Linked DNA regions of Homo sapiens: region 1 is linked to region 2. The links come from fine-mapping of genetic effects on gene expression. A gene starts in region 2. The other region holds a variant in brackets. All regions are shown on one strand. Distances are from middle to middle.

Region 1 (16,987 bases), 32 kb before region 2:
GTATCAAAATAAATAAGCCTCATAAAATGAGTTATGGAGCACTACATTTTTCTTTTTTTTTTTCCCACGCTTAATTCACTTTATTTTTCTTGTATAAAAACCCTATGTTGTAGCCACAGCTGGAGCCTGGGTCTGCTGCACAGAGACTCTGGTGTGGGTCTTGACGAGGTGGTCAGTGAATTCCTGATAGGGAGACTTGGTAAATACAGTCTCCTTCCAGAGGTCGGGGGTCAGGTAGCTGTAGGTCTTAGAAATGGCATCAAAGGTGGCCTTGGCGAAGTTGCCCAGGGTGGCAGTGCAGCCCTGGGCTGAGGTGTAGCAGTCATCGATACCAGCCATCATGAGCAGCTTCTTGGGCACAGGTGCGGAGACAATGCCAGTGCCCCTGGGTGCAGGGATGAGGCGCACCAGCACAGAGCCACGGCGGCCTGTCACCTTGCAGGGGACGGTGTGGGGCTTGCCGATCTTGTTCCCCTAGTAGCCTCTGTGCACGGGGACAATGGAGAGCTTGGCCAGGATGATGGCCCCACGGGTGGCGGTGGCCACCTCCTTGGAGCACTTAACACCCAGACCGACGTGGCCACTGTAGTCCCCGATAGCAACAAACGCCTTGAACCTGGTGCGCTGGCCAGCACGGGTCTGCTTCTGCACTGGCATAATCTTCAAAACCTCATCCTTGAGAGAGGCCCCCAGGAAAAAGTCAATGATCTCTGATTCCTTAATGGGCAGGGAGAAGAGATAGATCTCCTCCAGGGACTTGATCTTCATGTCCTTGACCAAGCGGCCCAGCTTGGTGACGGGCATCCACTCCTTATCTTTGGCCTTGCCTCCGCGAGCTCCGCGGCCTCAGCCCCGGCCCGGTCCACGGCTGCGACCCCGGCCCCGGATGCCACTGGCGAAACCTCTGCGGAAGCCACCGCGGTTCCCCATCCCAGGGCCACCAGGGCCTCCAGGCCCCCCCACTGCACCGGCGTCATCCGCCATTTGGTGTTTTCTCGGAGAAGAAGCTACATTTTTCTATTCTTGGGAATAGTTTGTCTAAGAGATAAATTATCTGTTCCTTGAAGGTCTGGGAGAACTCCCATGTAAAATCATTTAGGCCTGGAGTTTTTTGGTCTAATTTAACTACTACCAATATAATTAATATGAAGTTATATCTCTTTAGGTTTTCTATCTTGTTGAGTTAGAATAAGTTACATTTTCCCTGGAAATTATCCATTTTTAAATATTTTATTTTTAAAAATAGAAGACGGGGCTGGGCACAGTGGCTCACGCCTATAATCCCAATACTTTGGGAGGCCAAGATGGGCGGATCACCTGAGATCAGGAGTTTGAGAACCAGCCTGGCCAACATGATGAAACCCTGTCTCTACTGAAGATACAAAATTAGCTGGGCATGGTGGCGCACGCCTGTAACCCCAGTACTTTGAGAGGCCAAGGAGGGGGGATCACCTGAGGTCAGGAGTTCAAGACCAGGCTGGCAAACATGGTGAAACCCTGTCTCTACTGAAGATACAAAATTAGCCAGGCCGGGCGGATCACGAGGTCAGGAGATCAAGATCATCCTGGCTAATACGGTGAAACCCTGTCTCTACTAAAATTACAAAAAATTAGCCAGGCGAGGTGGCGGGCACCTGTAGTCCCAGCTACTTGGGAGGCTGAAGCAGGAGAATGCCGTGAACCTGGGAGGCAGAGCTTGCAGTGAGCCGAGATGGCGCCACTGCACTCCAGCCTGGACGACAGAGCAAGACTCCGTCTCAAAATAAATAAATAAATAAACAAAATTAGCCAGGCATGGTGGCACACACCTGTAATCCCAGCTACTCAGGAGGCTGAGACAGGAGAAGCGCTTGAACCTGGGAGGTAGAGGTTGAAGTGAGCCGAGATCATGCCTTTGCATGCCAGCCTGGGCAACAAGAGTGACACTCCGTTTCAAAAAAAATAAATTAAAAAATCGATATGGGGTCTTGCTACGTTGCCCAGGCTGGTCTCCAGCAATGTTCCTGCTGTGGCCTCCCAAAGTGCTGAGATTACAGGCATGAGCCAACATGCCCAGCCCCATTTTTCTTAAGCTTTTGAATTTACTGATGTTATCACTAGTATTTTCAAAGAACCAGCTTTATTTTTATTAAGATTTTAAAAAATTGAGGCATAATTCACATAACATAAAACTAACCACTTTAGGAGTACTATTCAGCCATAAAAAAAAAAAGAGATCTTGTCATTTGCAACAATATGGATAGCACTGGAGGTCATTATGCTAAATGAAATAAGCCAGGCACAGAAAGACACATCACATGTTCTCACTCTTTGTGGAATCTAAAAATTTAAACAATTCGACTCATGGACATACAGAGTGTAAGGATGGTTAGCAGAGGGGCTGGGGAGGGTAGTGGTGGGTTAGGGGTAAGGTAGGGATTGTTAATGGGTACAAAAAACCCACAAAGAATGAATAAGATCTAGTATTTCCTAGCACAATAGGGTGACTATAGTCAATAATAATTTTGATTGTACATTTAAAAAGCATAACTGCAGTTGACTATAACTGGATTGTTTGTAACACAAAGGATAAATGCTTGAGGGGATGGATACCCCATTTTAATTGATGTGATTATTATTATGCATTGCATGCCTGTGTCAAAACATCTTATGTACCCCATAAATATATGTATGTACTGTGTACCCACAAAACTTTAAAAAACTAACAAAAAACATCCCCACCAAAACCTAACCATTTTAAAGTTCACAATTCAGTGGTATTTAATACTTTCAAAGGGTTGCATAAGTAACCTCTACCTGGTTCCAAAACGTTTCCATGGCCCCCAAAATAACTGCCAGGCCCATTAAGCAGTAGCAGTTGATCTACACTTTCTTCTCCTCTCCAACCTGAGGCAATCGCCAATGTACTTTCTGTCTCTAGATATTTCATAAAAATGAAATCATACAACATATGGCCTTTTGTGTCTGGCTTCTTTCACTTAGCATAATGTTTTGAAGGTTGATCCACAGTGTAGTAATTATCAGTACTTCATTTTGTAAGTACTGTAGTAATCCAATACTTCTTTTTTTCTTTTTTGAGATAGAGTCTCATTCTTTCTCCCAGGCTGGAGTGCAGTGGCACGATCTTAGCTCACTGTAACCTCCATCTCCTGGGTTCGAGTGATTCTCTTGCATCAACCTTTTGAGTAGCTGGGGTTACAAGCATGCACACCACCACGCCTGGCTAATTTCTGTATTTTTAGTAGAGATGGGGTTTCACCATGTTGGCCACACTGGTCTTGAACTCTTGACCTCAAGTGATCTGCCTAAGGCCTTAGCCTCCCAAAGTGCTAGGATTACATGCATGAGCCACCGCACCCGGCCGATTTTAGAAATCTAGTGTGTATTTTATACTTACAGTTCATCTCAATTCAGGCTAGTCATTTTTATTTTTTAATTTTTATTTTTTTTCTCTAAGGAGCTTTCCAGAGAAAACTGGAAAGCCTACCAGACCAATTCTGAAAGTACTGTAACACTTGACTAGTAATACTTCAAGTGCTCAATAGTTTCATGTGGCAAGTGGCTTCCATGCTGGACAGCACAGCTTCAACACCTTCTATTATCAGATTATTTGACGCAGGAGGTGCTATGAATACCTTGCTACATTCTTAAAGCAAACTTTTCTCTACTAAAAAAATAGTAATTTATTTATTTTTCAATTTTTTTTTTGAGATGGAGTCTTACCCTGTTGCCCAGGCTGGAGTACGGTAACATGATCTCAGCTCACTGCAACCTCCGCCTCCCAAGTTCAAGCGATTCTCCTACCTCAGCCTCCTGAGTAGCTGGGATTACAGGCACCTGCCACCATGCCCAGCTAATTTTTTTTGTTGGTGGTGGTGGTATTTTGAGTAGAGACGGGGTTTCACCATGTTGGCCAGGCTGGTCTCAAACTCATGACCTCAAGTGATTCACCTGCTTCGGCCTCCCAAAGTGCTTGGATTACAGGCGTGAGCCACTGTGCCCAGCCAAAAAATAGTAATTTAAAACTCCCAACTCCAGCATATAACTGGTGGGAATATAAATTAGTATAACCACTTTAAAAAGCAGGTTGCATCTATAAAAACAGAAAATACACATTTCTTATAAGCTAGGAATTCTACTCCTATGTGTGTATCCAACAGAAATTATATATATATGTTCACAAAACGTATTTGACATAAGAATGTCAACAGCAGCATGATATGTAATATTAAAATATCACCCAAAGGTCCATCAAGGCTGAATAGTTACAGCATATTCACACAATGAAGTATCATACAAGCAAGGAGAACAAAAAAAACACAAGTACATTCATGCAGTAACATGGATGAACCTCAGAAACAAAATATTGAGCGAAAGGAAGGCAGACACCAAAAGGTGCATACTTCTGATTTCATTTTCACAAAGTTCAAAAACCTGGACAAAATGTTAAAAGTCAGAATAGTGGGCTGGGTGAGGTGGCTCACATCTGTTATCCCAGCACTTTGGGAGGATCTCTTGAGCCCATGAGTTCAAGACTAGCCTCAGCAACATAGAGAGAACCTATCTCTACCAAAAAGTTAAAAATTAGCTGGGCATGGCTGCTCATGGCTGTAGTCCTAGCTACTCAGGAGGCTGAGGTGGGAGGACTGCTTGAGCCCATGAGGTCGAGGCTGCAGTGAGCCGTGATCGCAACACTGCACCCCAACCTGGGCGACAGGATAAGATCGTGCCTCAAAAGTAAGTAAGTAAGTAAATAAATAAATAAATACAAATCAGAATAGTAGTTATCTTTGAGGGGCAGGTAATTACTGAAAAGAGGTATTAGGTAAAGTTGCTTCTTGATCTGAGTGCTGATTACATGAATGTGTCCACTTTGTGAAAATTCATCTACACACACTCACAAGTTAAGCCCTTTTCTACATAAATGTTACACTTCAAGATAAAATTTATTTAATTTTTTTTTTCTTTTTTGAGACGGAGTCTTCCCTGTTGCCCAGGGACAGGGAAGACTCTTCCCTGTGATCTTGGCTCACTGCAACCTCCACCTCCCAGGTTCAAGCAATTCTCCTGCCTCAGCCTCCCGAGTAGCTGGGATTACAGGCGCCCGCCACCATGCCTGGCTAATTTTTGTATTTTTAGTAGAGGTGGGGTTTCACCATGTTTATTGGGCTAGTCTCGAACTGTTGACCTTAAGTGATCCATGCGCCTTGGCCTCTCACAGTGCTGGGATTATAGGCATGAGCTACCGCGCCCAGCCAATAAAATTTACTAAAAAAGCAAAACTCTTAATAGCTCCAGCTACACACTATTCAAGCAATCTACTCTATCATTACATGCTAGGCATTTTTCAAAATGCCTTTTGATTGATTTTTGGAATTCTCTAAAAGCACTGAACTCTTAGAAAAGTATCAAAATGATAACCATCTGAAGACTAAGAAAATAGAGTCCTTAAAGTCAAGCTGAGTCTGCTGTTAGCCTCCTAAATGAAAGGATAGACAGAACAGGTCTTGTTTGCAAAATAAATTCAAGACCTACTTATCTACCGACAGCAATTATACACTTTCCATTGTCTTTCTATAGAAAATAGGAGTAGTAAATTTATAGAGGAAAAAACTGGAGAAAGACATAGTGAACACATGAGAATCTTCCTCTACTGATTGATAGGAAGGTGACTAGAAATTGAAAAGAGATTATACTTTTTTAAAAAAAGAAAATTATATAAAAAAAGATAATCATACTGTTGTCTTGTGGCCTCTAGAGTCAACCAGAAATGAACCCTGTTTCCACGTCTGGGTTGGCCACATAGATTCTGGCCACAGGCCTAAAAAGGTCTAGGTGATTAGCTTCTTGCCCTATGATTTCCATCACTTTCACGTTTCTCTAGCTGCAGAAGAACCTTGTGGTTTTAAAAAACATCACTATGGGGCTGGGTGTGGTGGTTCACACTTGTAATGCTAGCACTTTGGGAGACTGAAGCAGGCTCAGCTGTCCGAGACCAGCCTGGGCAACATGGCAAAACCCCATCTCTATTAATAAAAACATCACGATAGAAATAAGCCTCTTCTTGACTAAATGTTTAACCCTCTCAGTACAAGTCCTACTTCTTTTCAGAGATCTCTTTCCTCCTTTAGAAATCAAAAGAAAATATTATTTATTTATTTATTTATTTTGAGATGGAAGTCTCACTCTGTCGCCCAGGCTGGAGTGCAGTGGCGTGATCTTAGCTCACTGCAATCTCCGCCTCCCGGGTTCAAGCGATTCTCCTGCCTCAGCCTCTCGAGTAGCTGGGATTACAGGCATGTGCCACCATGCCCAGCTAATTTTTGTATTTTTAGTAGAGACAGGGTTTCATCATGTTGGCCAGGCTGGTCTGAAACTCCTGACCTCAAGTGATTGACCCACCTTGGCCTCCCAAAGTGCTGGGATTACAGGTGTGAGCCACCACACCCCGCCAAAATATTGTCTATTTCCACAGACATGTCCACAATGACAACTTTATCAGACACTCCAGCCCTCCAATTTGTCAACATTAACTTAAAATCTTTGGTTCTCAGGCTTCAGGTCTTGGGTGTCTATTCCCAGGAGAGTTTCACTGCGACATGAATAATTTGGTTTGCCCCGTTGAGACTGCTTTTACTCCTTGGAGAAGGGGCCAAAAAGTACTGAAACAGAGCTCTAACAATGTAATTTAAACATCCTGTGAGAGGCCAGGTGTGGTGGCTCACTCCTGGAGTCCCAGCACTTTGGGAGGCCGAGGTGGACTGATCACTTGCGGCCAGGAGTTCGAGACCAGCCTGGCTAACATGGCGAAGCCCTGTCTCTACTAAAAATACAAAAATTAGCCAGGAGTGGTGGTGCACACCTGTAGTCCCAGCTACTTGGGTGGCTGAGGCAGAAGAATCGCTTAAGCCTGGGAGGCGGAGGTTGCAGTGAGCCAAGATTGCACCACTGCACTCCCAGCCTGGGTGACAAAGTGAGACTCTGTCTCAAAAAAACAAACAAACAAAAAAAAAACCAATCCTGTGAGATACAAAAAGCACTCTTTGGCCAATAACTGAATTATATAAAAAAACCTATCTTTTCATTTAGAGACCATCCCTGAGTCATCAAATATCTATATCTAGTAACTGATAAGCCTATACTGGCCTACTTCCACTTGAATATATTAACTCATGTGATCTAAAACAGTGATTCTGAATGTTTAATGTGTATATAAACCACTGGGCATCTAGTTAAAATGCAGATTCTGATTTAGTATGTCTGGGGTGGGGCCTTGATTCTGCCTTTGAAATAAGCTCTCAGGTGATGCTAATGCTACTGGTCTTAGGACTCAGCTTTGAGAACCAAGGATCTAGCAAACTCAGATGAAAAATTTATAATTCCTTTGTTTAGCATGTTCAGCCAGCGGTTGTTTGGTTCATCTGAGCTCAGACTCAGTATTGATAAATTCAGATTAGCTCATATGAATACCACCTAGACAAGCATCATTATAGAAGGCAACTGCCCTGCTCCCAATGAGCAATTCCTTTACTAAAAAATTTAGACCAAATAAAACTTACAAGTAAAAATAGGGATGAAGTATAAAGAAATGGAAGAACAACAAAGAGGAGGCTCAAAATGGGAAAAGCCCTTTTGGGATTATCCCCTTGGGTTCACATGGAAATTAAGATTTATGCAAGTGAGAGCTGATGTTATTTTTTTTAAAACTGAGACACCCTCTAGAAAGAAATAAGACTTAAATCAATCCCTCATTAATACCACTAAGATATGAAGACATGTAAACAGACTAAACTTTTGAAATTTTTAAGGTAAAGTAGAAAACAACAGAGAAAAGCCATTATTCTGACTCACCTTATAAGCGCAAGCAAATTGTCAAGAAGTTTCAGAATCTGCTCTGTGCAGGGGTTACGGAAGATTGGATTTCCACTGGATGTATAACCCACCACAAATCCCCCAGCTTTGGCCTCTTCTAGGTCAGTGGGCCAGCAAGTTCGTTTCACCACACCCAGAATGCTGTATACACAAAAGCTCATCTATAGAAAAATAAGAATGACAGATAAATATTAAAAGGAAAAAAAAAAAAAGACCAAATACTGTTAGATATATTCAAGGTTCTGGCAAAAGTGACACAGAGGCCAGAGAGAATGAAATAATCCTCTGCTCCCCGGCAATCCCCCATCCCTTCCTTTAAGGTGAAGTCCAAGAGGGATCCTCTCACTGCCATTTTCAGGGCCAGTGGTAGGCTCTGGAAACTTCCCTTGCAGTAAGCTGTCTTTCTAGGAGCTGCAGTGACCCACCCACAGGACCCTGATGAGAAGGTGGCTTAGATACGATCCAAAACAAAGTGTTTAAAATGCCATCACTTCATCTTCTTTGAGTTGACCCTTATTGGGCCTTGACAGCTAGTGTCCTAATCCCCCCTCACGGTACTCTGAATCAACCTACTACTTGCCAGGTTAATTAATGGGACTTGTGCCATAATGGAGCCAGGAACAATGCTTATTTAAATAGCAAAGCACTGAAAAATCTCAGGTTTGCAAGTTAAGCCATCACTTAAGACTTTACATGCCAGAGAGCAATGGCAGGGAGGACTCACCCTGCTGACCAAGTTCTGACCTACTTCCTCATTACACCTTCAG[T/A]CTTCAGAGCTATTTAGAGATCCTTAAAGCCAAAATAATGACTTCATAGAAAAGACCATCTGCTCTGCTGTGGGAACTAACTCAAGAATTCAAGACTAAAGAAGAAAAGAAAGGAGAAGCTTAGGGAAGTGGAGACTCCCACGTTTCTCACCAGTATAGAAAAAACAAATCTATGAGAAACTTGACAAAAGACAACACCCTACTCCTACCCATGGCCAATGCCACTTCCCATTCCCAGGAAAGTCTTACTCGTGCACGGTTTAAGCCACACGGATCCTCCAGGCCTGGGTCACAGCTCTTCTGATCTGTACCCACATACGCAATGAAAGCATCAACATCTGACAGCACTCTGAAGGTTGGAGGGGGAAAAACAAGTTACATCATGACTTTAAACAAGGACAGTTTCTTCCACAGGAGTTAACAGGCTATCATTATTTGGCCCTTAAGAGCAGTTTTTATAGTGAGAGGAGTATAATCATACTAATTGTCAGTTGTCATTTGAAGGTTTAAATTTCCCTTCCCACTCCCAAATATTATTAGTAACAATTTAAGAATTAAACAAGAATATAATCTTCAAAATATAAAGAAAATAATTTCTCTACTGTGTGAGCACAGATAAGTGTCTGTGTGGTTGTATGGCCCTTCCTAGCTGTTCTCATTTTTCTAAATGTGCTGGTGCTGCAATGCAGACACCACAGGAGTCTCACTCTGTGCCCTCCCCACCCACAATCTAATTGAACCAGAGATTAAATTACAAAAGACTGCTTTTAGAGAACTTCAGATATCATGGATAATGCCATCACACTTCAATATCCTTAACCCCTACCCCACCCTGGGCCTAGCTCTTAAACCAAAATGGGTGCTTGAGTATAGTAAGAGTCAGGGCAAGGGATCTCCTTTACCTGTGCATGTCTTGAGAAAGCCAGATGCTGGCCACTGGTGCCATCAGCTCCTCTAGGAACACCTTCTGACGCTCGTAGTTCTTAAATTGGTTGCTAATGAGAACCAGGGCTTCCATGAGGGCACACTTCTCCATTTGTGTCAGGAGTAGCTCATTGGAGAGGAGTTGCTTCACATGGTTATAAAGCATGTCAAAATTGGGCTACAGATCAAAAAGAAAAAAAGCCAGAGGTGGTAAAGGTCTGATTTTCAAGGAGAGGTGGCTTACTCAAGGAAGAAAGAAGAAAACCAAAGCAGTCCCAGGAAAGTCAGGCCTATAAGGTTATTATTTGGTAATTCTGTTATATGTCTTTATTTTGCCTAAATAAGCAAGGCAATTTAGGCGGAAGATAGCTCTTGTCTTGAGTATTTGGATAACTGCACTTTCCCATACTACAACTGTGAAAAGATCAGCTTGTTTTATATATATATATAGATATATATGTATATCTATATATATATGGAGATAACTGCTGTGCATTCAGAGAAGAAATTTCTGGATAATTTGTAATCTGGAGTAATGTTAAATTTCTTATAACCCCATGCCCCAAAAAGGGTTGTGATTTGCATCTGCTTTTCTCAAGATCAGGCACATCATTTGGCAGTAGTAATTAAGATCATCACATAGTAAAGAGTTGTAGAATTATAGGGGTAAACTTAGTAATCTATATGGCAGAGAACTATTTGTATTTTGAAGAGAGATTACATTTGCCATCACATTTCTAACTATACTACTAAGTATACTAAGAAAACACCAATTCAAGAATGTTTATTTATTTATTTTTGAGATGGAGTTTCGCTCGTTGCCCAGGCTGGAGCAATGGCGTGATCTTGGCTCACTGCAACCTCCGCCTCCTGAGTTCAAGTGATTCTCCTGCCTCAGCCTCCTGACTAGCTGGGATTACAGGCATGCACCACCATGCCCAGCTAATTTTTTTGTACTTTTAGTAGAGACCGGACTTCACCATGTTGTCCAGGCTGGTCCCGAACCCCTGGCCTCAGGTGATCTACCCACCTCAGTCTCCCAAAGTGTTGGGATTACAGGTGTGAGCCACCATGCCCGGCCAAGGATGCTTATATGATGCAAAGCTATAGTTTCTAGTTTTTTCTTTATGTGAGGTACACTGAAAGCTGGATTTACACACAAATGTAACCAAACTTGGCTACTTCAGCCAGGGTCCAGCAGCTTACCAGCACAAGCTGGGGGTAGTCACGACACATCTTGATGATGGAGGAACAAGCATGCCTCCTCACATTCCTCACTGCCCGGGTTCTGGGGGCCTGAAAAGAGACATTCAACAAACTCGGAGCTGCTTTTAATATAATATACAGGTGCTGCATAGACTCATGTGAATATCTCAGTCAGGGGCAAATTCACAATGATTTTTCACAACCCTAAGAGTATAATGGAGTAACATTTATAGCCACCAAGAATCCATGTTTCTTGTATGCCCTATAGTGGCAAAACAACATATATGATAATCTACCACCCTTACTACCCCCTCCCATTTATATAAAAATATAAACTGAGTATCAGGTATTCATACATTTGTACTCAAGAAGTTAGAATCTATTGGTTTAATTAATGGTCTTACCTTACTTTCTTCAACAGTTTCAAAAGTGACAGATGAAAATAGCTAAGGGAGAGGAGGAAAAAAGGTCACTCATGTTTATTTGTTTTAGAGATGAGATCTTGCTATGTTGCCCAGACTAGACTTGAATTCCTGGGCTCAACTGATTCTCCTGCTTTAGCCTTCTGAGTAGCTGGGACTACGGGCATGAGCTTATTCATACTGTCCATTTTCTCAGATAACCTCTACAAGAGTCATCGGAGTCACAATTTTACCATCAAAACATTTTACAATAGGATCCCAGAACAATTCATGCCATCACCCAAGCACTTGGCTATGGAAACGCCTCTCTCTTCTTTTATCAAAAGTTGTATGGTCTATCCCTTCTATTCCATTTCATTATTTCCCATTTACTCCTCATTCCAATGAAATATGGCTGCTTACTTGGCCACTATTATGGAATTAAACTCAGACAAGAGTGTAGTCAAGAAACTCACTGGGCATTCTCCAACTCAAATAATTTGCAACAAATGAGCCCACTTTTCTGAAGTCCTACTGGTCTTGTGACACAACATTTTCTTCATTTCTCTGGCTCTTTTTCCTTCTGTGGGGGCTTCTCATTTTTTTCTCCACTCCTCCAATGATGGTGATTCACTAGGTTCCTCGCTTGACTCACATGTCTCCTAACTCTACATACATAATCACTTCAGTAAGACTTCACTTTTAGTCGTGGGACTACTATGATGATGATGCTTTAATTTTATCTCATTACTTTCTAGAGTCTAGATCTTCAACCTCAAATAGCCAATTTATTGTGAGATGTCTCCATAAAGATGTTCTACATATTCTTCAAACACAGTATTCCAAAATACTCATGCTTTCTCTTCTTTAGTCCCGTTCTCCTTTGTGATCTGGTATTCTGACTCAGGGAGTGGCTCTATCACCCACCTAGTCAACTGAACTGGAAACCTGGAAAGTGTTCCTTCCTCTCATAAATCCCCTCCCTGCCCGACAGCACACTCTAATACTCTCCTTTATACAAGTCTTCATTGCAATGCCATATAGGTAACATTAACTGTTTTTGTGCCTTTCTTCCCAGAGTGTTCCTAAAGAGTGAGGCACTAGCATGGTACCTGATCCACAGTAAGTACTGAGTAGATATTTAATAAATGAATAAATAGCTGTGTTTATTAGTTTGCCTCACATAATTTTAAAAATAGTTACAAAAATAATTAGCCTAGGCCAGGCATGGTTGTGCATGCTTGTAGTCTCAGCTACTCAGAAGGGTGAGGTGTGAGGATCCCTTGAGACTAGTAATTTGAGTCCAGCCTGGGCAATGTAGCAAGATCCTGTCTCCAAAAAAATAAAATAAATAAAAATTAACTTAGAAATGTCAAAATAAAATTTACAAAGGAGATGGGCTTTATACCTTAGAGAAGACCTGGGGCAGGAACTCTGGTCTGTAGGTGACAAATGGAAAGAGTGCAGAGACATTAGTAAGGACGCAGGACAGGATGAGGGGATCCTTGGTATCAAAGTTCAGAACCATCTGCAATAGCTCTATTCCATCATTAACAGGAATTTCCTGTAACAAAGACATAAAACAGGTTGACAATGGCTGCCTCCACTTAGAAATAACCATTTTGGCTACATTTTATTTTCATCTTTTAAAGAGACAGGGTCTCATTCTGTCACCTAGGCTGGAGTGCACAGTGGCACAATCATCACTCACTGTAACCTCAAACTCTTGAGCTCAAGGGATCCTCCTGCCTTAGCCTCCTGAGTAGCTAGGACTACAGGCGGGCACCACCATGCCTGGATACTTTCTAAAATTTTTGTAGAGATGTTGTAGAAGTGTTGTTATGTCGACCAGGCTGGTCTCAAACTCCTGGTTTCAAGTGATCCTACGGCCTCAGCCTCCCAAGTAGGTGGGACTACTGGCACGCACCACCATGCCTGGCTAATTTTTTAAATTTTTAGTAGAGATGAGGTCTCACTATATTGTCCAGGCTGGTCTCAAACTCCTGGGTTCAAGCATTCCTCCCATCTTGGCCTCCCAAAGTGTTGGGATTACAAGTGTGAACCACCGTACTCAGCTGTGCGTGCCCTTCTTACCATCTTCTCAGCAGTGTATTATTCCCTAAAACCTCTTAAATTTTGTATTTCTTCAACTGATCAAGAGGCTGAATGTTTTTCATATTTATCAGCTACTTTATTTATATATCACTCTTGGTTGCCCAGTGCAATGGCACGATCTCAGCTCACTGCAACCTCCACCTCCTGGGTTCAAGTGATTCTCCTGCCTCAGCCTCCTGAGTAGCTGGGATTACAGGCACCCATGACCATGCCCGGCTAATTTTTGTATTTTTAGTAGAGACAGGGTTTCGCCATGTTGACCAGGCTGGTCCTGAGCTCCTGACCTCAGGTGATCCACCCACCTTAGCCTCCACGTGCTAGGATTACAGGCCTGAGCCACTGCGCCCCACCCTTTTCTTTTTTTTTAAGACAGAATCCCACTCTGTCACACAGGCTGGAGTGCACTGGCGTGATTTTGGCTCACTGCAGCCTCTGCCTCCTGGGTTCAAGCGATTCCTGTACCTCAGCCTCCCAAGTAGCTGGGATTACAGACATGCACCAGCATGCCCAGTTAATTTTTGTGTTTTTAGTAGAGACAAGGTTTCACCATGTTGGCCAGGGTGGTCTGGAACTCCTGAACTCAAGTGATCAGCCAGCCTTGGCCTCCCAAAGTGCTGCGATTACAGGCATGAGCTACTGCGCCCGGCTTATCAGCTACTTTAGGTTCTCCTCTATACATTATTGGATTATATCTTTTGTCTATTTCTCTATAATTTAGTAAATCCTCATCTGCCTACTTTAAGAAATATGATTTTACTGATACAGTTGAGGCTCTCTGTGCATACCCTCCTTTTCAGACCTACAGGTGGCCACTATACTGGTGGCGTACAGTATTCTAAAGCAGTGTGGTACTTAAAATGTATACTAAATGTGGTAGTGCTTAGAGTTAGAAAGACCTGAGTTTTGGTCCCCATTTTGCCATTTATTAGCTGTTTGAACTTGAGTATGCTATTTAGCCTCTCTAAATCTGTTTCCTCTTCTGTAAGATGTACATCCATAGATTTTCCTATTCTACTACCAGTTTACTGGCCAGGCATAGTGGGTCATGCCCGCAATCTCAGCACTTTGGGAGGCCAAGGCAGGAGGGTCGCTTGAGGCCAGGAGTTTGAGATCAGCCTGGGCAACACAGACTCCATTTTTATTATAAATTAGCCAGGTGTGGTGGCAAGTAACTGTAGTTCTAGATCCTCAGGAGCCTGAGGTAGGAGGATTGCTTGAGCCCAGGAGTTGGAGGTTACAGAGAGCTATGATTGTGCCACTGCATTTCAGCCTGAGCAACAGAGAGATATAGCGTCCCAAAATAGAAAGAGAAAAGAAAAGAAAAAGGTCAAAATAATCATGCAGTCAGCATGGGAAATAATTACTTACTTCTCTATTTAGTGTTCGAAACATCTGGGTGATAACACTTTCCAAAAAAAGAGTCATGGCTTCCCACTGCACGAATGAAGGTGAGAAGACGGAACAGAGGCTTCCTTCTCCAGTTCCAACTGCAGAACAAGCTTTAAAACACACACACACACATACACACACACACACACACACACAATTATCAGCATTGAAAGATCGCAGAAGACACAGAGAGACAATGGAGCCTTAGAGAACACCTGAGAATTTCATGATTGAAGGAGCAGGGTAATCTAACCCCTCTCAGCTGGGGCAAAGAAAAGATGATGTGTGCTGAAAGCAATGAGGTAGGTGAAGGTTCCTACCATGCCTCCTCCTCCTCTAACAATGAGCGGTCTGAATTCACCTCTATGAGCCTTGTAGTAAAACCATTTTGAGTAATGAATGAGAATACGCAGGTGAACATCAAAAACATTGCCTGGCCCATTAGTAGGCACTTGATAAACATGAATTAGTTTCTCCCCTCCTCCCCCTTTATAATCTTTTCCATGAGAATCTAAATAATTAAAATTGAGACCATAAAGAATCTTCCCAATAAGGAAACAATGTAATATACAAAATACTGCTTCACATCCAATAGCCTCATGACAGCCTTAAGGGCTATGTCTAGAGAAGGGTGCCATCCTTCAAGTTTACAACTATTACCACAGCACAGCACTCAAATAGCAAGGCACAAGCAAAAAGATTTACCAACTGCTTTTCTTTTTTTGTTTGTTTGAGATGGAGTCTCCTCTGTCACCCAGGCTGGAGGGCAGTGGCGAGATCTCGGCTCACTGCAACATTAGCCTCCCAGGTTGAAGCAATTCTCCGCCTCAGCCTCCCAAGTAGCTGGGATTACAGCCACCTGCCACCATGCCCGGCTAATTTTTGTATTTTTTTTTTTTAGTAGAGACGAGGTTTCACCATCTTGGCCAGGCTGGTCTTAAACTCCTGACCTTGTGATCCACCCACCTCAGCCTCCCAAACTGCTGGGATTACAGGCGTGAGCCACTGTGCCCAGCCGCTTTTCTTTTCTTTTTTTTTTTTTTCTTTTTTGAGATGGAGTCCCGCTCTTTGCCCAGGCTGGAGTGCAGTGGCACGATCTTGGCTCACTGAAACCTCCACCTCCTGGGTTCAAGTGATTCTCCTGCCTCAGCCTCCTGAGTAGCTAGGATTAAAGGGGCCCACCACCACGCCTGGCTAATTTTTTGTTTTTAGTAGAGACAGGGTTTTGCCATGTTGGCCAGGCTGGTCTTGAACTCCTGACCTCAGGTGATCCCCAGCCTCGGCCTCCTGAAGTGCTAGGATTACAGGCGTGAGCCACCCTGCCTGGCCTAAGATTTACCAATTGCTTTTCTTGCTTACATACAGCGTAGTCCTATTTACTAGTTTCATCTTAGTGCAACACATTTGGGCTTCCTCAACCTTTCAAGTTACCAAATATCAGAGAATTTAGAGTCAATTGTAAATAAAGCTGAATGTTAAGTCCCTCAAATGTCAGCCAGTAGTATGGTGCTTTTCTAAAGCAGTGACGTGCACTAGTTAATTCACTTTTTTTTTTTTTTTTTTTTGAGATGGAGTTTTGCTCTCGTTGCCCAGGCTGGAGTACAATGGCGCCATCTCGGCTAACCGCAACCTACACCTCCTGGGTTCAAGCGATTCTCCTACCTCAGCCTCCCAAGTAGCTGGGATCACAGGCATGCGCCACCACGGCAGCTAATTTTTTGTGTTTTTAGTAGAGACAGGGTTTCTCCAAGGTGGTCAGGCTGGTGTCAAACTCTCGACCTCAGGTGATCTGCCCGCCTTGGGCTCCCAAAGTGCTGGGATTACAAGCGTGAGTCACTGCATCCAGCCTTTTTGCTTTATTAATACTGTCACACACATATAGCATGCATTAAGATGAGAGACAAAACATTTGGAGTACAGAGAAGTTAACTGGCTGAGGCATTCGGTAGAGGGGGATTATTCTGAATTTATGTAAAGTATAATTTCACAAAAGCTTTGGAGTGGCTGAGTGATATGAGAAGTCCCTGTATTATTCCTGTTATGTCTAACAGGAGATCCTTTCTGATTTCAGGAATAGTGCTATGCAAGACTTTGGCTGAAAAGTTTTAAAGTTAGGTCTACGCATGAAATTTGTTAAGCTGGTGCCTGAAGTGAAGCAAATAAAATCAACAATAAATAATTGGTTGATTCTGTTAGAAATGGAAAATGATGGCAAAACTGATAAGGACATGGTTTTACCCTAATTTAAAACAAATTTAAAATGTGTCATCTGCTTTCTTTGTGTCAGCCAATGAAAACGCTCCCTCTCCAGGA
Region 2 (13,115 bases):
CTTTTCAGAAAATGCAGTTTTGACATCAGTCATTTTCTGTGCTGGCTTACAAAACAATTCTGGAAAAACTATGGCTAAGTCTTAAAGGCTACCTCTTCTGATAGGTGTTGAGGGTAGGACAATCAAGTTAGGATGGGTTTTCAGTTATTCTCATACAATCCTGCTTTGGATGTACCACCCAGAGAAGGCACACAAACTCAGAAAGACAGAGAGAAAAAAGAAAGCCACAGTGCCTAATCAGAGATTCATTGACCTATACATTGCATTACTCTAAAAAGGCTTCGAGGGCTAATGACATATAGTCAGAGCTCAGTAAGTATTGGCTAAATGGCAGGTAATATTTGTTGAATGGGTAATATGTACCACACACTTTACATGGATGAAGAAACTGAAGAAAAGAAAGGTTAAATCTTGAATGAGAGCTCCTGTGAGGTTCTGATAACATCTAGGGGATCATTCCTCTCTTCTTGGAGATTGCTCTTCTCTACTCACCTAAACAGCATCTCTATAGGTTATATAAGATATAAAGATCTGTTCTCTCAGACTTCAGTGGTAATGTCCAAGAGCTCCTTACTTGACAACGTGTTCCAGGATCTGAAGGCCAAAATGTCTGACGATGGCAACTTGTGTTTTCTCAGCCAACCTCAAGCCACAGGGGACACAGATAGGACACTTTTCTTTAAACTCCTCACAAAACTGAAAGAAGAAAAGTTAGTGTTTCCTTTCGAGGGCTGAGAGAATAGGGACTAAAAGAATTTCATCTTAAGAAACTCCAACCAGGGCCGGGTGCGGTGGCTCACACCTGTCCCAGCACTCTGGGAGGCTGAGATGGGTGGACTACTTGAGTCTAGGAGTCTGAGACTAGCCTAGGCAACATGGCGAAACCCCATCTCTATTAAATATATATATATATATATATTTTTTTTTTTTTTTTTTGAGACGGAGTCTCACTCTGTCGCCCAGGCTGGAATGCAATGGCATGATCTCGGCTCACTGCAACCTCTGCTTCCCAGGTTCAAGCAGTTCTCCTGCCTCAGCCTCCTGAGCCCATGTAGCTGGGACTACAAGTGCACGCCACCACACCCAGCTAATTTTTGTATTTTTAGTAGAAACAAGGTTTCATCATGTTGACCAGGCTGGTCTTGAACTCCTGACCTCAGGTGACCCACCTGCCTTGGCCTCCCAAAGTGCTGGGATTACAGGCGTGAGCCACTGTGCCCGGCCCACTAAAAATATTTTTTTAAATTAGCCGGGCATGGTGGCAGGTGCCTGTAATCCCAGCTACTCAGGAGGCTGAAGTGGTAGGAGAATCACTTGAGCTCGAGAAATCAAGGCTGAAGTGAGCCGAGATCTCACCACTGCACGCCAGCCTGGACAACCAGAGTGAGACCCTACTCAAAAAGAAACTCCAACCTAAGCTATATGTTTAAAGTTGCAAAACCTAGATCAATATTATGTGGATCTCCAAGCACAGTTGCTTTAAAAATATATATTTAATATAAAAATAAAAATATAAAATATATAAAAGTTACACATATATAACATTTCCTCCAAGTGGTGTTCACTCTATTTTATGTGTATATATTATATATATATTATGAATAAAGAACTGATAAACATTCCTTCCAGCGTGATGGTTCCAGATTTTTTCCATGCTACGGCCAACAGTAGCCCTACTAGTGTTGGAAAAAAATGGACACAAAGGAATAAGAAATTATTTGTTAGAGACATCCCCCTGACGTACATAGGGGTGAAATAACAATTTCTAGGGTTTCTTTTAAAAACCTTCGAGGCAGGGAGAGAGGATAGGCGGTGGAAAAAGTAAATGCGGTAAAATCTTTGATTGCTGAATTTAGGTGACAGGAACATGCAGAATCACTGTCGTATTCTCTCCACTTTTGTGTCTATTTTAAATATTAATAATAAAAACCAAACTAATGGAACCCAATTGTTTCTGATTCCAAACCCTGTGGCAGACATCTACATATTGTAACATTTCCTCCAAGTGGTGGTCACTCTCTTTTTTGAAGTTAACATCACTTTAAAAATGTACAGCACAAGTATTTTCTCCTAAATGGCCATTTCTCACAGCCCACACACGTTGTTTTATGGGCAAGTAAGCTTGAATTGTATTAACACCCCCAAACTGCAACATAAGTCAGTCCCAAGAGCAGAGCATTCGGGTCTCACGCAAACTACTTTCAGGAAACCAAAGTGCCCTTGTTAAAATGCAAAGTAAGTGGTAGAAGTTATCTTTGCGCAAAATAGCCTAAAAATATTACACTCAAAAACATGGGAGAAGTAGGGGTGCGAGAATTTCCCCGGAAAATGTCCAAGACACAAACGAAAGTTAGCGAGATGTTAAAGCATATAAGCATAAGGGTACCAGAGGGGCTGGAGCTCGGTCAGGGCCAGGGGAGTGGGCCAGCAGGAAAACGTTTAGTGCAGGAGAGACCATAAAGAACGAAGCTGGTGTTGGGGGCGGGATCTACACGTGCGCCTCGGGAAGGCGAGGGGATGTCGGGCTTGGGGAATGAAAATGGGCGAGGGTCATGTTGCGGACAAGAGTGCACAGAAGCGAGGAAAGGGGGAGGAGAGGGCTGTGGGAAGCTGCGGCGAGATGAGAAGCAGCATAGGGACCGGAGTGTCCCAGGCAAAGGACAGGAGCGGCGAGTAGAGAAGGCGGCGATTTGGGAGAGGCGCGGAGGGCCGCGAGGGGAAGGTCCCGGGGAGTTGGGAAAGGAGGTCCAGGGGCCGCGTGGGCGGGAGACTACCCCAGTTACAGGCGGCGCCGGAGCTGCTGGGGCTGGGAGAGGGTGTCGGGACCGGCCCAGGACGCCAGGACCCCAGCTACCTTGAGGGCTTCCAGCCGGTAGCGCTGGGTGGAGTTGGGGTCCATCATGACCGTCACCGCTTTCACCAGCTGCTCGCACAGCGCGTTTACTTGATCCATCGCCATGCCTAGCGCCACGCGCCGAGAGCGCACACCACTGCAGTCCCGGGACCACGAGGCACGACAGCTCCCTCGGCGAGACCACCCGTTGGTACCGGGCCGCGGCGGGCGGCGGGGGTGGGAAGCTGGAGGAGGAGCGTTAGCAGCAACTCGCGCTGGGAAGAAGCCGGCGCTGCGCACGCGCCCGGCCCGCCACTGCGCACGCGCCCGCGGAAGTGGCGGCTCCCGTGTGCAGGTTGAGCCTAGGTGGGCGGGGCGGGAGGCGGAAGGGCCGCGGTGCGCAGCCGCGTCAACGGCCCTTCGCAGCGGGCGCGCTGTCAGACCTCAGTCTGGCGGCTGCATTGCTGGGCGCGCCGCTCTCGTCTGATCCCTGCTGGGGACGGTTGCCCGGGCAGGATCCTTTACGATCCCTTCTCGGTTTCTCCGTCGTCACAGGGAATAAATCTCGCTCGAAACTCACTGGACCGCTCCTAGAAAGGCGAAAAGATATTCAGGAGCCCTTCCATTTTCCTTCCAGTAGGCACCGAACCCAGCATTTTCGGCAACCGCTGCTGGCAGTTTTGCCAGGTGTTTGTTACCTTGGTAAGAAAATTTAGAACCGTTCGCTGTCACTGTGTTCAGACTTTCTATGTTGCCTTGGCTATTGGTTTTATAATGTAGCAGTGACTGGGCCAAGGTTGCGTGAAATATAAATCATGCTAACAGGGATAAGGCCCTGGTACTGTCTTCTAAGATTTTTCTTGTAGAAAAAAGTATGTTTTTCCCTGTAGTTGTTAAACCTCTCTCTTGGAATTACTTTCCTGGATGTATTATTACCTGGTGGGCACTAAACTTGTTTTGTGCGGATTGGGGTAACTCGAGATGTTTAAAGGGAATAATTGCAATCAGTGAAGGTTTGTGCAGTTTTGATAATTGGCCAAGTGCTATGTATAAGGTTTCAAAGTAGTGTAATCCTTATCCAAAAGCATGGCTTGGGCAGAAAGTCTTCTTCATTTTCCATCTTTATAAAGCTCTTGGCCGGGCGCGGTGGCTCACGCCTGTAATCCCAGCACTTTGGGAGGCGGAGGCGGGCGGATCACCTGAGGTCAGGAGTTCGAGACCAGCCTCACCAACATGGTGAAACCCCGTTTCTACTAAACATACAAAAATTATGTTTGCATTTTTAGTATTTTTATACAGGCGTGGCGGTGCGCGCCTGTAATCCCAGCTACTCGGGAGGCTGAGGTGGGAGAATCGCTTGAACCCGGGAGGCGGAGGTTCAGTGAGCCGAGATCGCGCCTTTGCACTCCAGCCTGGGCGACAGAGCGAAACTCCGTCTCAAAAATAAATAAATAAAGCTCTTGCTTTCTCCAGTAAATACATAAACGGAAAACCTCAACAGCTTTATTATCTGTTAAAGTCTGCATGTCTGTTTTTGTGATTGTGTGCTTAGTAAATTGTGTGCTGAACATAAATCACTGCTTCCTATTCTTGCTCCACTTCTGGTATTTGGATCTAATATGGTGCTTAGCCTGTGTTTTTTTGTGTTACAATACTATTTGTTGGCTCAGTCTGTTCCAGTACTACTGAAAAGCCACTTCAAAGTAGAGGGACTTCTGGCATGTTATAGTTTTAACTTGTAAATGTTTAAAGTATCACATTCTGCCTGTTTTAGGCGTGGTCGATTGGAATTTATAAGGAATTAATGCTTTGACTGCTCTGATTTTAATTATTTTTCTTTCCACTCACCTTCCTGCTTTGCAGTTGTAAGACGTTTTTTTTTTCAAGGTGAATGTTAGTTTTTGAAAAACTTTTTTTAGAATACAGTTGGGTGCTCACTCAACTGTATAACCTGTGTTTCTCGTATTTAAATCATGGATTGCTGGTGTTTCGATTGTCTTATTTAGGTCTTGGCTCCCAAACTGCTGCATATTGGAATTACCTGGAGAGCTTTTAAAAATCCCCGGCCTGGCGCGGTGGCACACGCCTGTAATCCCAGCACTTTGGGAGGCCGAGGCGGGCGGATCACGAGGTCAGGAGATCGAGACCATCCTGGCTAACACGGTGAAACCCCGTCTCTACTAAAAATACAAAAAATTAGCCGGGCGGGGTGGCACGCGCCTGTAGTCCCAGCTAATGGGGATGAGGCAGAGGAATCACTTGAAACCGGGAGATGGAGGTTGCAGTGAGCTGAGATCTCACCACTGCACTTCAGCCTGGGTGACAGACGGAGACTCTGTCTAGGAAAAAAAAAAATCCCCATGCTAGGCCGAGCGCGATGGCTCACGCCTGTAATCCCAGCACTTTGGGAGGCCGAGGTGGGTGGATCGCCTAAGGTCAGGAGTTAGAGACTAGCCTGGCCAACATGGTGAAACCCAGTCTCTACTCGAAATACAAAAATTAGCCGGGCGTGGTGGCGTGCGCCTGTAATCCCAGCTACTCAGGAGGCTGAGGCAGGAGAATCGCTTGAACCCGGGAGGCGTAGGTTGCAGTGAGCCGAGACTGTGCCATTGCACTCCAGCCTGCGCAACGAGAACGAAACTCTAACTCAAAAACAACAACAACAACAAAAAACTCATGCCCAGGTCATACCCATACCAATTAAGTTAGTATATATAGTTGTGGAAGTCAAATATCAGTAGTATTTAAAGCAGCCTGGCGGGGGGACAAGAGCGAGACTTTGTCTCAAAAAAAAAAAAGTGTCATGGTCATGAAAAACAAGGAACAACCGAGGAAATGCCACAGATTGGGGGGCAGTAAAGTATGTAGTTAATAATATGCCAATGTTCATTTTTAAATTTTGGTAATTGTGTTAAGTAAGATGTTAACATCAGGAAACTGGGAGTAGGAGAACTCTACCATTTTTGCGATTTTCTGTAAGTCTAAAAGTATTTCAGAGTAAAAGGTTGACATTTTTCATGAATGCTATGATGTTATATATTATTTTCTCCTTCTCTTTTCTCTGAATTTATACTTGAGATTTGTCTGTCAACTGATTCCGTATTGGTTCTCTTCCCCTGGTGATGTGCATTTTAATTTCCATTTCCCCATGACTAATGATGGTGAGCCTATTTTTATGTGCCAATTGGCTATGTTTGTATTTTGTGGTTAGTTCTTTTAAGGATAAGTATTTTTAAAGCTTTTAATACCTATTGCCTTCATAAAATTGTACTAATTTATCCTTATGCCAGCAGTACAGGTTGAGTATCTGTGATATTGTGATATATGTATGTTAGTTTTTGTCCACGGTTCCTAGCTCATAACTCCCCTAGCTTTCGTTATAATGTTGGAGCTCTTGAAGCAAGCCTCAGAAAACAGAATCTCTCTCTGGCCTTCTGCCCTCCTTTCACCTGCCCAAAGCAGGACTCTAATCTTCCCCTGCCTTTCTGATTATGGGTCATAAGACTTTCATTTCAGAAGAGTTCCTACCCCATACCCTGGAGAAAGGAATGCTACCCAGAGAGGCCAGGAAGAATCTGGACAGGCCTTGCTGGGTTTCCCCAGTCTATTAGTATTAGATCATATCTTTTTTGTCCAGTCACATTTCTACACGGATGTCAGTCATGCCTATCCAATGAAGTTTCCATAAAAGGCCCAAGAGGAGAGGGTTCGAAGAGCTGCTGGATAGGAGCAAAAGGAAGTTCCTGGAGAGTGGTGTTCCCAGGGAGGGCATGCCTTGCCATGTGTATCTCTTCATCTGTATATCCTTTATAATAAACTAGTAAATTTGATTACCTGAGTTCTGTGAGCCACTCTGGCAAATTAACTGAACCCAAAGAGGGGCTCATGAGATTCCCAATTTATATCCAGTCAGTTAGAAGCACAGGTAAAACAACCTGTGGCTTGTGATTGGCATCAGAAGTAGGGGGCAGTCTTGTGGGACTGAGCCATCAACCTGTGAGATCTGACGCTTTCTCCAGGTAGATAATGTCAGACTCGAATTGGAGGATACCCACTTGGTGTCTGCTGCAGAATTGATTGCTTGTTTGTTGGTGGGGAGAAATCCTCACACATTTGGTCACAGAAGTCTACCTTATTGATTGTTGTTGAGTGAAAGAATCTTTTTTTTTTTTTTTTAAATTTATTTTTTTATTGATAATTCTTGGGTGTTTCTCACAGAGGGGGATTTGGCAGGGTCATGGGACAATAGTGGAGGGAAGGTCAGCAGATAAACAAGTGAACAAAGGTCTCTGGTTTTCCTAGGCAGAGGACCCTGCGGCCTTCCGCAGTGTTTGTGTCCCTGATTACTTGAGATCAGGGATTGGTGATGACTCTTAACGAGCATGCTGCCTTCAAGCATCTGTTTAACAAAGCACATCTTACACCGCCCTTAATCCATTTAACCCTGAGTGGACACAGCACATGTTTCAGAGAGCACAGGGTTGGGGGTAAGGTCACAGATCAACAGGATCCCAAGGCAGAGGAATTTTTCTTAGTGCAGAACAAAATGAAAAGTCTCCCATGTCTACTTCTTTCTACACAGACACGGCAACCATCCGATTTCTCAATCTTTTCCCCACCTTTCCCGCCTTTCTATTCCACAAAGCCGCCATTGTCATCATGGCCCGTTCTCAATGAGCTGTTGGGCACACCTCCCAGACGGGGTGGTGGCCGGGCAGAGGGGCTCCTCACTTCCCAGTAGGGGCGGCCGGGCAGAGGCGCCCCTCACCTCCCGGACGGGGCGGCTGGCCGGGCGGGGGGCTGACCCCCCAACCTCCCTCCCGGACGGGGCGGCTGGCCGGGCAGAGGGGCTCCTCACTTCCCAGTAGGGGCGGCCGGGCAGAGGCGCCCCTCACCTCCCGGACGGGGCGGCTGGCCGGGCAGGGGGGCTGACCCCCCCACCTCCCTCCCGGACTGGGCGGCTGGCCGGGCGGGGGGCCGACACCCCCACCTCCCTCCCGGACGGGGCGGCTGGCCGGGCGGGGGGCCGACCCCCCCACCTCCCTCCCGGACTGGGCGGCTGGCCGGGCAGAGGGGCTCCTCACTTCCCAGTAGGGGCGGCCGGGCAGAGGCGCCCCTCACCTCCCAGACGGGGCGGCTGGCCGGGCGGAGGGCTGACCCCCCCACCTCCCTCCCGGACGGCACGGCTGGCCAGGCGGGGGGCTGACCCCCCCACCTCCCTCCCGGATGGGGCGGCTGGCCGGGCGGGGGGCTGACCCCCCCCCACCTCCCTCCCGGACGGGGTGGCTGCCGGGCGGAGACGCTCCTCACTTCCCAGATGGGGTGGCTGCCGGGCGGAGAGGCTCCTCACTTCTCAGACGGGGCAGCTGCCGGGCGGAGGGGCTCCTCACTTCTCAGACGGGGTGGTTGCCAGGCAGAGGGTCTCCTCACTTCTCAGACGGGGCAGCCGGGCAGAGACGCTCCTCACCTCCCAGACGGGGTCTCGGCAGGGCAGAGGCGCTCCTCACATCCCAGATGGGGCGGCGGGGCAGAGGCGCTCCCCACATCTCAGACGATGGGCGGGCGGGCAGAGACGCTCCTCACTTCCTAGATGTGATGGCGGCTGGGAAGAGGCGCTCCTCACTTCCTAGATGGGATGGCGGCCGGGCGGAGACGCTCCTCACTTTCCAGACTGGGCAGCCAGGCAGAGGGGCTCCTCACATCCCAGACGATGGGCGGCCAGGCAGAGACACTCCTCACTTCCCAGACGGGGTGGCGGCCGGGCAGAGGCTGCAATCTCGGCACTTTGGGAGGCCAAGGCAGGCGGCTGCTCCTTGCCCTCGGGCCCGCGGGGCCCGTCCGCTCCTCCAGCCGCTGCCTCCCGGGCGGCGCTCGCCGGCGCGGCGGCAAAGACTGAGACAGCTCTGCTGCCCGCTGAACTCCATCCTCCCGGCGGTCGGGCGGCGGCGGCTGCGGTCGGTCGCGGCAGCGGCTCCGCTTCATATCTGCAGCTGGGGCCCGCGGGCGTCAGCGCCGCGACTGTCCCGGCTCCGCACTGCCCCGGGCCGCAGCGCAGCCGCGCCAACCACCACCCGCGGCCACCATGGCCGGACGGGCTCCCTAAGCCACCGACCCCAGCCCGCGGCGCCTTCGAGCCTTCTAGGGCCTCCGGCGCCGCGACCTCCTCTCAAGATCGAGTGAAAGAATCTTAAAAACTGTTTTTTCCACTCAGGGTATCCCTAATCTGAAATTTGAAATCTTCCAAAATCCAAAAAATTTTTTGCACCAACACAGCATTCAAAGGAAATGTTTATTAGAGCATTGTAGGTTTAGGATTTTTGGATTACGGATGCTTAACTGGTGATTATAATGCAAATATTGCAAAATTTGAAAAAAATGCAAAATCTCAAGCACTTTGGATCCCAGCCATTTCAGATAAGGGATACTCAACCTGTATATTTAAATGCCTATTTCATTCTTGTTAGTTTCCATGCTCCCATGCTCATGGTAACTCATCAGTGAAAGAATGGAATTACAGTTTTCCCTGGCATTTTGGATTAGGTGTTTTTCTAACTGTCCATAAAATGTTGTGTTACAGAAAAATGGCTACTGGACAGGATCGAGTGGTTGCTCTCGTGGACATGGACTGTTTTTTTGTTCAAGTGGAGCAGCGGCAAAATCCTCATTTGAGGAATAAACCTTGTGCAGTTGTACAGTACAAATCATGGAAGGGTGGTGGGTATGTATCATTGTTATTGTCACAACTATTCAATGGTAACACAGTGGCACTGTGGCAGGTCCTTTGTTGTTGTGGTGGTGGTGGTGGTGGTGACAGGGCCTTTCTCTGTTGTCCCATCCAGAGCGCAGTGGCACCATCAGCTCACAGCAGCTTTGACCTGGGCTCAAGTGATCATCCCTCTTCAGTCTCCCAAATAGTTAGAACTACAGGAGCGCCCCACCATGCCAAGCTGATTTTATTTTTTGGGGGGTGGGTAGAGATGGGGATTGGTTGGGGGGGCAGGGCTCACTATATTGCCCAAGCAGGTCTTGAACTCCCGGCCTCAAGCAGTCCTTCTGCCTTGGCCTCCCAAAGTACAGGAATTGCCAGCATGAGCTGCTGTGCCTGGCCCTATTTTTGAGATTTCTGAACTGCTTTGTTTTGGATTGAATGATGGCATCTGTGGTCAAAAAGTTTCTAATATGTTTATAGATTACTTGTGTTAAATGTTACTTGTTTTTGCTTGTGATCATATAATATGTTTTCTGTTTCCTTTTTTTTCTAACCTTAGAATAATTGCAGTGAGTTATGAAGCTCGTGCATTTGGAGTCACTAGAAGTATGTGGGCAGATGATGCTAAGAAGTTATGTCCAGATCTTCTACTGGCACAAGTTCGTGAGTCCCGTGGGAAAGCTAACCTCACCAAGTAAGAAAAAAACATTATTTAAGGAGACATAAAGGAGTCGAAAATAATACTCCATGAGGCTAGGAACTGGTGTTTTGAATTTGTTCCATGTAAATAACACCGGAAAAAATTCTTTTTGGTTAGCCATCTTGTCTCTGTGAAATGAAAAACAGATTTTAATATTGTGTTTTGGGGACAGTTCAAAACCATTATACCATATAAGAGTTGCTGCCTTTGATATCTATTCAGTTCCTTAATTGTTCAAAATTGGTTGTTAAATTCAGACTTAATACCAATTCCCATGTTCTCCATCCAAAAATCTAAAGTATTTGAAAAATTGACTGTGAAACTGAGAATTTTTCCAGGAAAGGCTGAGTCAAACTGACATTGTAGTACAATATCAGGAATTAGTTGCTATAATTGAACAATATCAAGGGAGATTTCTCTGTTTTTAGATTAAGCTATCTCTCCGCAAATATTAGAAGTTTCACCTTGGAATGGGGGATATGAATCAGCATAGCTAAGTCAGAGGTAGGCACAAACCCCAGCCTTTAATCCTAACAGCTAATATGTATTAAACATATTATCACATGCCAGGCACAGTGTTAAGCTCTCTATAGGCAATATCTCTATTAAATCTGACATTGTTATAAGGTAGGTACTAATATTACTCCCCCTTCACAGATAAGGAATCAAGTTCAGAGAAGTTAAATAATTTAAGTTAGGCTGGGGATGGTGGCTCATGCCTGTAATCCTAGCATTTAGGGAGGCTGAGGCGGGCAGATCACTTGAGTCCAGGACACCAGCCTGGGCAACATAGGGACCAGCCTGGGCAACATGGGGAAACCCCATCTCTAACAGAAAATACAAAAATTAGCCAGGCATGGTGGCACACACTTGCAGTCCCGGCTACTCAGGAAGCTGAGTTGAGAGGATTGCTTGAGCCTGGGAGGCAGAGGTTGCAGTGGGCCCAGATCACACCACTGCACTCCGGTCTGGGTGACAGAGTGAGACCCTGTCTCAAGAAAGAGAAAAGTTCAGACAGCTAAGTGAAAGACTGAGGATTCACATCTGTTTTTTAAGATTCTAGTATCTATGTTCTCAAGGTACACTATACTATGTGTTGTGGTATAGGAATCATGCTTTGACTTAGGACCTGACATACTTCTGAATTCTAATTCTAATTCTATGAATTAGAAGTCTAAAGGTAGAGTGGCATACAGACCCACATTGGAATTATTGCTAGAAAAGAAGATAGACTTGACTGAAGATTAAGTTTTCCAAATACTCTTAAAAATACCTTGCAGTGATTTGCTCAAGAGGCTGTGAGGAAGCACTGAAATAGAGTATTGTTTTAGAAAAACTCAAACTATGGTTTTCCTCTCCTCTCACACCACAAGAACAATCAACACAGAAGACATCTGTGACCAAAGGTGTGGAAGTATTTCCCCACACACCAATCAGCAGACACCAGCTGCATGTCCTCGCACTCAATTCCAACACTGTCTACCTGGAGATGGCATCAGATTCCACATGTTGAGGGCTCAATACCACAAGAACACCCCCTCCTTCCTTTCCATCACAAGTCCAGGCCTTTAGAACGTCTGAACAGCTGGCTTTAAGTTGGGGTTCCTGCAACCCCCTCTTTGGATTTGATTAATTTGCTGAAGCGACTCACAGAACTCAGGAGAACACTTACTTATGTTTATTATAAGGGATATTACGAAGGATACAGATAGGTTGGGCATGGTGGCTCACGCCTGTAATCCTAGCACTTTGGGAGGCTGAGACAGGAGGATTGCTTGAGCTCAGAAGTTTGAGACCAGCCTGGGCAACATAGTAAGACCTCGTCTCTACCAAAATTAAAACAAAAACAAAAACAAAAAAATTTAGCTAGACATGGTGTTGTGCAGCTCTAGTTCCAGCTACTCAGGAAGCTGAGGTGGGAGGGTCGCTTGAGCCCAGGAGATTGTGGTTCCAGAGAGTCATGATCAAACCACTGCATGCAGCCTGGGCAACAGTGAGATCCTGTCAAAAAGAAGATGAAGATGAAGAGATATATAGAGCAAGGCATGTGAGAAGGGGTGCGGAGCTTTCATGCCCTCCCTGGGTGAGCCACCCTCCAGGAATCTCTACTATTACAGCTATTTGGAACCTCTCCGGACCCTGTCCTCTTGGGTTTTTAGGGAGGCTCCGTTATGTACTCATGACTGATTAAACCATTGGCTATGGGTAATCAACTTGACCTGCAGTATCTCTCTTCCTCTCCCCTCCCCAGAAGTTGAGGGGGTGGGGCCAAAAGTCCCAACCCTCTAATTATGCCGTGGTCTTTTTGGTGACCTGCCCTATCCTGAAGCTATTAGTTAACATTAGCATACAAAAAGACAAAACTTGGGTGATTCCAAGGATTTTTGGAGTTGTATGCCAGGAAACTGGGATGAAGACCGAATATATATTTCACAATATTATAAGTATCCTTTTCTGGCTGTGTGTATGAGTATATTGCTCTTTCTTTTCTTTTTTTTTTTTTTTTTGTGGGTGGGGGACGGAGTTTCACTCTTGTTGCCCAGGCTAGGGTGCAATGGTGCAATCTCGGCTCACCACAACCTCCATCTCTTGGATTCAAGTGATTCTCCTGCCTCAGCCTCCCGAGTAGCTGGGATTACAGTCATGTGCCACCGTGCTGGCTAATTTTATATTTTTAGTAGAAATGGGGTTTCTCCATGTTGGTCAGGCTGGTCTCGAACTCCTGACCTCAGGTGATCCACCCACCTCTGCCTCCCAAAGTGCTGGGATTACAGGTGTGAACTGCTGCGCCCGATCTTGCTCTTTATTTTCTTTGAGGCCTATCCTCTTCCTAGTTCAAATAATGATTTAAAAAAAAAAAAAGTCAAGTATTT

What was found.
Region 1: its variant is fine-mapped to the expression of XPO5 in testis (GTEx, PIP above 0.99).

Annotation. Positions count from the first base shown.
Region 1 is chr6:43,538,720-43,555,706 of GRCh38, forward strand. It overlaps XPO5 (exportin 5), which reads right to left. Exons shown (of 32, transcript NM_020750.3): 14 at 14,654-14,784; 15 at 12,579-12,734; 16 at 11,174-11,215; 17 at 10,770-10,859; 18 at 9,542-9,741; 19 at 8,889-8,988; 20 at 7,852-8,033. LOC124901522 (U7 small nuclear RNA) reads right to left here and starts at 3,517; the gene lies at 3,456-3,517. It also overlaps a transcript of POLR1C not described here, the pseudogene RPS2P29 and LOC124900224. RefSeq lists a silencer at 3,586-3,635 and an enhancer at 8,250-9,449. The variant T/A (reference allele first, on the strand shown) is at 8,640.
Region 2 is chr6:43,572,906-43,586,020 of GRCh38, forward strand. XPO5 (exportin 5) reads right to left here and starts at 3,133. Exons shown (of 32, transcript NM_020750.3): 1 at 2,855-3,133; 2 at 575-696. The coding sequence starts at 2,959. It overlaps POLH (DNA polymerase eta), which reads left to right and starts at 3,280. Exons shown (of 11, transcript NM_006502.3): 1 at 3,280-3,535; 2 at 9,411-9,551; 3 at 10,102-10,236. The coding sequence starts at 9,415. RefSeq lists a silencer at 3,080-3,279 and enhancers at 3,300-3,549, 4,878-5,378.